2 separate regions of the Homo sapiens genome follow, and region 1 is linked to region 2. Evidence: fine-mapped expression QTL. A gene starts in region 2. The other region holds a variant in brackets. All regions are shown on one strand. Distances are from middle to middle. Region 1 has its middle 96 kb from the start of KCTD8. Region 2 holds the start of KCTD8 (potassium channel tetramerization domain containing 8).

Evidence for each region. PIP is the estimated chance that this variant, and not a neighbour inherited with it, causes the effect. A credible set is the group of variants that fine-mapping cannot tell apart.
Region 1: its variant is the best candidate, but not a certain one, in a credible set for the expression of KCTD8 in tibial nerve (GTEx, PIP 0.82).

The regions. Positions count from the first base shown.
Region 1 is chr4:44,542,117-44,547,503 of GRCh38, reverse strand. No RefSeq gene overlaps it. Among named protein-coding and RNA genes, the nearest start is that of KCTD8, 96 kb to the right of the region's middle. The variant C/T (reference allele first, on the strand shown) is at 2,876.
Region 2 is chr4:44,445,650-44,451,036 of GRCh38, reverse strand. It overlaps KCTD8 (potassium channel tetramerization domain containing 8), which reads left to right and starts at 2,228. Exons shown (of 2, transcript NM_198353.3): 1 at 2,228-3,474. The coding sequence starts at 2,514.

The DNA of each region.
Region 1 (5,387 bases), 96 kb before region 2:
GCTAACCTCTGTCTTTTTGTGTCCCTCTCCCACCTACAGCATAGGGTTAGGATTCAGACAGGGAGTCAGACTGTCAAGTAAACCATTCATTAGCTGTGGGAAGTTGAACACTGTTCAAAGTAGTAGACAGATAGATAGATAGATAGATAGATAGATAGATAGATAGATAGATAGATATATCTTTTATATAATATTATATATACATAATCTTATTTGCACTTCACACATGAAGCAGGTAATGTTGATGGTTTTCCCCACTTGTAGATGGGGAAATTAAATTCTAGCAAGTTTGGCAAGGTTAAATATACTCATGGTCATAATACCATATTACAATCAATATCCTATACCATATCATTACACTATACAATGATATTATCTCATTGGTTTACTGTGAGTATCAAATGGCAAATAAAGGTAGGATGCCTGGCACATAGTGCTCAATAAATATGTTAGCTATCTTTTTTGTAAAGGTTGTTCTAGCTCGTCTAATTATTTTTATTTCTTCATTCCCACAATGATCATATTTTGTAAAACAAATTTATCATAGACATTTGGCAACGTTCACCATTAATTTTTTAAACTGTGTTTAAGTTTTATTGACACATTTTTTGATGGTAGAGTCATATTACATTTTTATGTTCTTCTAAGAAAACACAGATAAGACCTGGGCAGAGAGTATGAACTATTTGATGAAGTATAAAGATCATGAGACTCCCATCTGTAATTCTGTAGGTGGTCTAGAGTGCCAATGGATGTGTCTCATATGGTGTAAGTTTTCCATATGTGTCTTAATATTAACCTGAAAAAAAACAGGATATATAAGTATATATGTGTATAAAATATATATTACATAAAAGTATATACACATATATATGGGGACATAAATATATATACACTTAATATATGGGTACACATTTTATATACACACACTATATATACACACACACATTATATGTATATGTATTCATAATGCTAATGTTCTGAGGGCAGATAAATACTGAGCTTATTTATTATTGTTTTGTACAGAGCTAAGTCCAGTACCAACAAGGTAGTAAATAGTCTGTACCATTAGTTAATGACTGTAACAGAAAAAGGGTTCAATTGTTTAGTATGCTACTCTAAAAGTAGAAAAGTTATTTTTAAATACTGAGAATTAAGCTTCATAGTTACCACTTGCTGTTTCCCACTCTTCATTCTCCACTTTCCTCTTCCATAAATACCTTCCAAATTCTATTTTCTGCAGTATCATGGGAAGAGAAAGAGACAGAGGTTATACTTGCTACTTTTGAAACATTTGCTCTTTTACTGATACCCAGGGTCAACTTTGACAATTGGCTCCATTTTTCCATGCTCGCCAAAGAAAAAAATGAATAAATAAGAAATTTTGCACAATTTAAAACTTTACTGAGAGCAGTGTAAAAGAAAGTTTAGTAAGGGACAGCACTACTAAACACTTGAAACTAAATACTGTCAGAGAGAACATTAATTAATGCTGATCAATGAATTTCTTTGAATGCCTCATTTTTACACAAAGATCAAAGTCAATTTCCCTTATTCAGCAGAACCAGATTCATCTAATTTCTCACCTTAATTAATGGATCTCTCTAAAAGAAGCCAAAAAAAGAAAAGATTGAATGGTAATTAAACGGTAATTTTGTAGTTAAAATTATTGCAAATTACATGCAAATTGGAAAATATCATCAGTAAAGATCTTTCTGTGTGAAATTCCTAGTGCCATTATCTGAATTTATTTTACGTTGTATTCTGGGAGCATATTCAACGCTCTGGGCAGACAGCAGCCTGTCATTTCAGAGACCTGGAGTTGACTGCTATCAGGGCCAGTAGGAACCTTGGTTGATAATAGCTTGAACCAAAGCAGCAGTAGTGGGAAAGGAAGGAAGGAAATAGATATACCGATGGTAAGAGGTAGAAAAAATAACCTTTGCTTGCCATATGAAAAAAAAAACTCTTCTCTAAAATGGAGGTTATGAGAAGTAGGTTCTGTAGATGGAAATAAGTCACCTTGGTTTAAAAATTTTCAAATCAGTAATTAGTACTACAGAGAATCAGGACTAGAAGTGACATGAATTTTGTATTTAAAAACCTTTACGCAAGATCTCTACAACTTCCATTTCATGTTGCAGATTTTGGTAATTAGGTAGCTCTTCTAGAAAAGTCTTCATTTTGCCCATTTGCTATTGTTTCCTGTTTTCTTTAGAGGTGATGAATAACCAAGTACTGTTTTTGAGCAATAACTGGCTGTTGGTTGCTCTCTGCTTTTCCAGATCCAGTCTCTTTCCTTCATACCCTGCTCTAGGTACCAGGAACCTGACTTCTGTGGACTGCATCACCTGTACTCTCTTGCCCTCTGGTTGGCCAATGGAGGCACTAGTAGGAGCTTGATGGATAGGAGGAGAACGAAATCCGAGTTTTATTTTCCCCAGGTGTTGGTCTGTGTTCAGACAGTGGCTGTGTTTCTCTACTTAAAGCCACAGCTCCTTTTGCAGCAGAGCCTTTCCCACCATTACAGCAATTGTCAGGTTTCAGGGACAACAGCATCTCTTTGCCGATTACCAGGATCTCACCCCAGATTACAGACGGTAAAAACTCCCCAGATTACAGACAGTAAAAACTTCTAGCTTCTAGAGTTAATAATTCTTCTCCTGCCCTAGTTGGTGTTTTTAACTCTCTTCACAACTCTGTAAATAGTCCCATTATTAAATGGTTTTACTTGTCACTTCTATGTGTCCTGCAAGGACCCTGACTCAAAATGATTCATATTCTCGAAACGTGGCATCATTAATTTTTCCTTGAGGTAAGTAAAGGTAATGAGTTTGTTTTTTGAAATTCACTTTGTTAACTATATTGGGGATTC[C/T]GTCTATTTTCTCCCCCTCAGATATCCCTCCTCTCTTCCATCCCTCCAAGGAGGCTTCTCTACCAAGTATAGTCCCATTTATGCTCCTGCAGCCCTTTCTATATGCCCTAGGCTGGCAGTTAGTCCATCGTATTGTAATTAATCATTTATTTGCTTCTTTCTTTTTCTTAAAAGTCCCTCTGCCTTACTTATCATTGTATTCCCAGACCTTGACGGTGCCTAGAAAAACTGGTGCTCAGTAAATGCTTAGTGAATGAGTTAATATCTTGGGGTAGGTCTTATGATGCTTTGTAATAGTTGAGTCATCCCATGGTATAGTACAGTATAATGGTTATGAACATGGTCTTTTGGCCAGACTATCAAGCTTGGATTCTGGCTCTACCATTTAACCTAGTAAGTGACCTTGAAGATATTTAACCTCAGTGCCACAGTATCTTTATGTCTTAAATGGTGATAATAACAGTACTTATTTAATACAGTTGTGTGGATTCAATGAGTTAAAATACATGAAGTGCTTAGGTCTGTGCTTGGCACATAACAAGGCTATATCATATGTTTATGGTTCTTATATAAGATACTAGTATGGAGAGAGTTAAAATATCAAATTGATGGTAAGCAGGAGATTTCAGAGCTAATTGCAAGCTAGACATAAATGCATCATCAGAATCTCAATGCCTCCATTAAGAGTTTTAAAAATGAATAAAATTGATAATGTGGAATTGTTGGTCAAAAGCCTGGTCTATTGTTAGGCTCTTAGAACCCCATGGAAGACCTTATCTTTTGCTTGGGCAGGGCTCACAAGCCACAAGGCAATAGTCATAAAATGACTTCAGTACGCATTCATTTTCAGACAGCATTGTGTTGTGTTTACTGGTAGAATTTTTACAGGATATAGGATAAATTTTTTTATTTTTTGTTTTTTAGTATTTGAGAGACATTTCACTTTGCTTTCCTAAATACAGATGATACTCACTGACCTTCCAGGGACTTCTGAAAATTAAAATAGAAATGTGAACAAGGCTTCTGGATGCTAAGTCCTTCAATTGTAGTTATTTTATTCTGACAATCTTCCCTATCAATAGTTAGAAGCAAAATTTCTGAAGTCAGACTTTTTAGGTTTAACTCTCTGCTCCACTCACTCCCATTAGCCGAGATATGACCTTAGGCTGATTACTTAAATTTTGTCTTAGTTATTTTAACTGTAAAATGAGAGTAATAACAGAATCTGCTTCATAGGGTCATTATGGGGATTACATGAGGTAATCGCATAAAGCTCTCAGAAAAGGGCCTGGCACAGATTAAGTGCTCAAATTGTTAATATTAGTGTTCTTTATTTAAAACAAAAATACTCTAAGTTTCACACCAACTGTTTATATGAAAAGGTAGAGGCAGATTATTAACGCAACATAAATTTAGTCATTTTGTTGTTGTTATTTAAATATAGGTTTTAGGCAAGAAGAGAGGCCTACTTATTTTCCCTTTCAGGATGACAATTTATACATGTAATTTAGATCTACACAATCGATCCAAATTCTTTCTAACAATACCTGAAGGGGTTATTTTAACTCTGGACATAAAGATTACGAATGGGTTAATGGCGAAGAAATTAGTCTTCTCAAAAAAAGTTCTATAGTTATTTGATGGCAAGAAATTTCCCTTTTTAATTTGGTTAACTGATGTGTGTGTGTGTGTGTGTGTGTGTGTGTAAAACCTAGCCAAGAGCGCCTTGGATAATGCTATGGATTCAGTTTCTGCTCGTTCATTGAACTATTTCTACATTGCCCTCTAATCCACCATTCAGACTTGTGGATCCCTGTATTAGTCAAGATAATTTATTGGTTTCCGTGTTACAGCTAATAGATTGTTAGTATGGAGTTCTCCATCTGTGACAACACAAATTTCAGTCTAAACTGTAGAATTTCACCAGTTGTTCTTCGAGGCTGCTGTGATTCTACAGACTACAACTATTATTGTGCAAAGCTCAGCCACTTAATAGCCTCGTGTACTTGGGCAAGTGCCTCTCCATCCTTTACCACCAAAATAAGTGAAATAATAGTACTCAGATTATGAGGACTGAAAAAATTAATATTTATAAAATCTTTAGAACATTACTCGGCACATAGTAAGTGCTATGGTTTGAATATGTCCTCTCCAAAATCTAAGTATTGATGCTGAATGGCCGATGTGATGTTATTAAGAGACGGGGCCTTTAAGAGGTGATTAGATCATGAGGACTCCTCTCTTGTGAATGGGATCAAGGTCCTTATAGAAGAAACTTCCTACAGAATTTTACCCTTTTTGTTTTTCCATCTTCTGGTCTCCTGTTACGGAGAGGCAACAAGAAGGCCCTCGCCAAATGCCAAATTCCAGTGCCTTGCTCTTGGACTTCCCAGCCTTCCCAACTGTGAGAAATGAATTTCTATCATTTATAAATTATCCAGTCTGTGGTATTTTGTTGTACCAGCCCAGTGGACAAAGACAGTAAGCCTCACATTGATATCTGTAAACTCAA
Region 2 (5,387 bases):
GAAGAGGAAAGATAGAAACATTGTAGATCTGCAATTTGTTCAGTCTGAGTTTGGTTGAAGGGTATAACTGGGAGACAGAGGAGAGTAATAGGAGTGTGAAGAGAGAAGAAATTAAGAAAAAATGTTTAATCAAGTTGAAGGAATCATTTTAAAAAGGAATATATCAAACAATACAATTCATTGTGAATTTTTGAGATGATTCATTTAGAGTATAAATTTTTGATCACTTTATCTTATAGACATAATTTATTTAATTCAAAAGTAAAGATGGATTTCAACCTGATATTAGCGACTTCATATTCACATGCATATTTATTATATATCCACTTCATTACAGTTCTACAGTCTGCACCTTACTTATCATTAGGGACACTTACCTTATGATAAATGGGCTTCACTAGTAGTGGTTTGAGGCATTATTATATATTCATCTATGAAGATTATAAAGCATCTATTAATTCATTTATCCAGGAACGATTACTTTAAATCCCGAATATTCTTCTAATGAGGCAGAAAATAGTGTATTTTTTCTGTTATTTTAATACTTGGTTTTAACTTTTAAATGAAGGCTAAATCAATTAAATTAGTTAATTTGATCAATCAGTTTATAAATTTGGCAGGACACAATAGTTTTGAGTAAAAGGATTGCATGATGATGCATACCGAAACCCCCGTTTTAAGTCTCAGTCCTTTGGCAAATATATTCTGTTCTTTCATTGGTCCATTAGGTTCTCTCTGCTTCATATAATGCAACTTCAAAATTGGTATAACATTGTCTATGGATGCAGCTTATAAGGATCAATGATTTAAACATAATTTGTAATGTTCCAAAAATAATGTATTAATTTACAACCGTATCTGAAATTTGATACTTTTTTGGGTGGTTTGAAGAAAAGGAGTTGTTAGTAGGCATTTAACTTTTTAAAAAATATTAAAATCTGTATATCGACTGCTAATGGATAAAGTTCATCTGTAATATTGTTATGATAATTGAAGCAAACTACTTTGTGCCACAATACACCCTTTTCTCTTTTGTACTTCATAAATCAATGATTCTTTATGTTTCTGAACACAGATGTATGCCCCAGGGTAGAAGAAATATTTCTCATTTGCTTTCCTATTTTCAGTCTTTATCACAAGTAATGCTCATTTTGCAGACTGTACCTGTACTATGTACACATGGAAATTAAGGTGAGCTTAAATTCATATAATTTTTATTTGTGACCTTACTCTTGGGGTTAGAAGACTAATAAAAATATCAGCCACTTCTCTTGTTTGATGGAGCTGAAAGGGAAATGGAGAGATTAATGAGACTGATCAGGATTAGAAAGAATGAACAAATCGAGTAAATTTCCTCTCGGGCTCCGTCTCTCCCTCTATAAACATTTATTAAGCATCTAATTTAAAACTAAAAATTGTAAAAATGTCGGAAGGAAACAGTTGTTACATACACTCCTTTATTATTGTGAACTGAAAGCAGATTACAAAGTTTTAAAAATTATTCAAGGATATTCAGTGCACGCAGTCGTGAAATTTGATTCCAAGAGAGGTACGCGCATTTAGCCCTTCACTTAAACTGTATCATAAAGCCACTACAAGAGATGTACCTTCCCACCCTCACGTAATCTTTTTGCAATCACTGCTGGCAAGCCAACATTTGTGGTGATTTCAGATTAGGAGCCTGGCATCTTTGCTATAATCAAAACCTTATTCTCCCCTCTCCGCTCCTCCACTCCTTACCTTAATGAAAGTGCAAAAAACTAGTTTTACTGGGGAGGGAGGCAAGGAAGGAAGGAAGAGAAGAAGGAAAGGAGGGAGGAAAGGGGGTGGCACAGACCCAAGGAGGGAGTGAAATGAAGGAATGAGAGCGCTGTCCCTTTTTCTCGCTTTTGCTTTAGGAGCTCCCTGCCTGCCTGTCCCCGCGGGTCGGGGAGCTGCACCTCTTGCAGGCTCGGCTCTCGGCCCCGCCCCCTAGCGTCGGAGCCCGGGAGCCGCGGCTGCAGCCTATCTCTTTAAATGACAGCTGAGGCTCGGGTCCCAGTCCGGGGCTTGACGTCAGTGCCTCCTCCCGTGCTGCCAGGAGTAGTTAGCGCCACCGTCGGCGCTCCGGCCTCGCGGCACGCTTGCAAGCTGCCGGGGCGGCGAGTTTTCTTTGCTTCGGCCCCTCCTCCCGCCCTCCCCACGGAGAGCCGAGCAGCAGCCCTAGAGCCTCTCGCAAGTCTCTCTCACACTTCCCCGCCCTCGCCCCAAAGGAGCAGCAGCTCCTTCTTGCCTCTCCATTGCCGCCGCCGCACCGGCGGAGCTCCTCTCTCGCGCGTCTCTCCTCCGATGGAGCTCGGGCGCCGCCGACGCCGCCGCTGCCCCGAACCCTGAGCGGGGCCGCCCCGGTCGGAGGAACGCGCCGCCCAGTCCGAGGGCGCAGAGCGCCAGGAGCACGCGGAGGGCTGGGGCGCGGGCTCCGGGAACGAGAAAGTGCAGCTCTCTCGGGTCACTGGGCCGGCGGCGGGGGGACTATGGCTCTGAAGGACACGGGCAGCGGCGGCAGCACCATCCTGCCCATTAGCGAGATGGTTTCCTCGTCCAGCTCGCCCGGCGCGTCGGCCGCCGCCGCCCCGGGGCCCTGCGCACCCTCGCCCTTCCCTGAAGTAGTGGAGCTGAACGTAGGCGGCCAGGTTTATGTGACCAAGCACTCGACGCTGCTCAGCGTCCCGGACAGTACTTTGGCCAGCATGTTCTCGCCCTCTAGTCCCCGTGGCGGCGCCCGGCGCCGGGGCGAGCTGCCCAGGGACAGCCGGGCGCGCTTCTTCATCGACCGGGACGGCTTCCTTTTCAGGTACGTGCTGGATTATCTGCGGGACAAGCAACTCGCGCTGCCGGAGCACTTCCCCGAGAAGGAGCGGCTGCTGCGCGAGGCCGAGTATTTCCAGCTCACCGACTTGGTCAAGCTGCTGTCGCCCAAGGTCACCAAGCAGAACTCTCTCAACGACGAGGGCTGCCAGAGCGACCTGGAGGACAACGTCTCGCAGGGTAGCAGCGACGCGCTGCTGCTGCGCGGGGCGGCGGCCGCCGTGCCCTCGGGCCCGGGAGCGCACGGTGGTGGCGGCGGCGGCGGCGCGCAGGACAAGCGCTCGGGCTTCCTCACGCTGGGCTACCGGGGCTCCTACACCACCGTGCGCGACAACCAGGCCGACGCCAAATTCCGGCGTGTGGCGCGCATCATGGTGTGCGGGCGCATCGCGCTGGCCAAGGAGGTCTTCGGGGACACGCTCAACGAGAGCCGCGACCCCGACCGGCAGCCGGAGAAGTACACGTCCCGCTTCTACCTCAAGTTCACCTACTTGGAGCAGGCCTTTGATCGCCTGTCCGAGGCCGGCTTCCACATGGTGGCGTGTAACTCCTCGGGCACCGCCGCCTTCGTCAACCAGTACCGCGACGACAAGATCTGGAGCAGCTACACCGAGTACATTTTCTTCCGTAAGTTCGCAGCCCCGGCGTTTCCCAGCACCCCTCGCCCCCTGCTGAGCCGCCGCCAGTTTGAGCCCCGCTGGAGGCCCCGCGGGGGTGTCCGGGGCAGGCGCTGGTTAACTCCTTATAGAGAGCGGCTCTCCCTGCACGATTCCCTTATGCAGTAGACACGATTTACATTTCACCGATTCGGATATTTCCGTCTCTACTCCCCCTTTCTAGAACTCAGTAGCACCCAGCTCCCAGCTGTCTACTTGCTGAACTTTATTGATCTTGCCTTCTCGGCCCAGCCCGCTCCCAGATGCCAGGGTCTCCTCGGTTGCGGAGGACAGGGTGGGAGAGACTGGGGCACAGGGCAGGGTGCATAGACCCTCCTCCACCCCTTTGCTTTTGCAGGACTGCTGGGGGTCATTTCATGTGGCCCTCAGTGGTGTCCCTGCAGAGGGCAGGATGCCATAACAAGGCATCGCCTCGCACCACCTGGATCACCTGCTGTTGGTGCAGCTGCCGCGCGGGAGCCTCCAGTTACGGGTGGTTTTCTAGAGGGCAGGGGAGAAGCGATAAAGGTGCCCCCAGAGCCCCTCGAGGGGGCGGGGGCATGAGAGCGGGTGTGGGGAAAGGGGACTCCTTGACAGATGGAAACCCAGATTTCCCTGCGTCTGTTATCTCCAGTCTAATTGCCCAGTGTTTGGGACAGGGGAGGGTGGAAGGAATTAGAAAGTTTGCATGTCTGAGTGCTGCTCTTAGGGTTGGAGATTAGGAGGGGCAAGGGAGGAGGGAGGGAAGGTGTTGGGGAGGGAGGGGAAGAGAAAGAGAGAATGATTGTGTTTCCTTCTCCAGCGCGAAAGCGGGGGTTGAGTCCACTTTCTCAGGGTGAATAAATAGAGCGATTTTCTGAAATGAGAGAATGAAGGAATAGATTTGGGAAAGCATCTGGGGTGCGTTTTGCAGTGCGCTTCCGGAGCGGGCTATGTGGAGTTCAAGAACTATACCAAATACCATAATCTGAACCTGGGGATTGGGAGTGGGATTGGGAGTGGGGTGGGGCTGTGGTGGGCACAATTCTCAGTGGCGTTTATGAAGTGAAAAGACAACGACTAGAGAGCGATTTGGACAAACGAAAAGCCAGCTGGGATGGCAGCAGGAACATTATTTGGCAAAGGTTTTTCCTTTGGCCAGACACAAGTTAAAACTTGCCTGTAGCATAGGGAGAATAGCCTTGAAATCCTGTGATGGAAATAGACCAGCTTAAATTGAATTTATTTATTTTGGTAATTTAGTCACTACAGTAATTGGGAACTGAACAATTTTCTGGACTTTATTTTGACTGGAGAAATGGAAGGGAACTCTCCTTGCACAGGTGCAAGCTTAACTGGAAGGTTGGCTTAGTGTTTGTATATTCTGGTAACCTTGGAAGTTGGGTGACAAACCACAGCACACAGGTTCTCAGAGTTAGACTACTTTTTAAAGTAATGCTGGATTTCTTGAGACAACGGTTTCAACAGAGAAGCAAATGAAGTGTCTGTCCACTGAATTGGAAGCTAAAAAACTGTCTTAATTATATCAAAGTATTACTTGTTACACAATAAAAAGATTAATGGTCAGAAAAGCCACCCAAGGGAAGATATTTTATTGCTTGTATAAAATTGACATCTCTTAAATATATATTGAGTAATTAAGTATTTTAGCACCATTTTATTTCTTATCATTGTGACCTTTGTCAACAACTTTTTAGATTTTAAACCATTTAAGTCATTTCAATGTAGATTTCCAAACATTTCAGAAGATAAGGTAAAATGAACTTTTGCCTTTCTTGTAGTTAGTGTTTTTTGTTAGAGAAGATACAAGCATGAATGTTCTGCACAGTTTTCTGAAATTTTGAAAATCTTACTTGGTTTTGGTTTTTCTTATTCCTCTAGAAA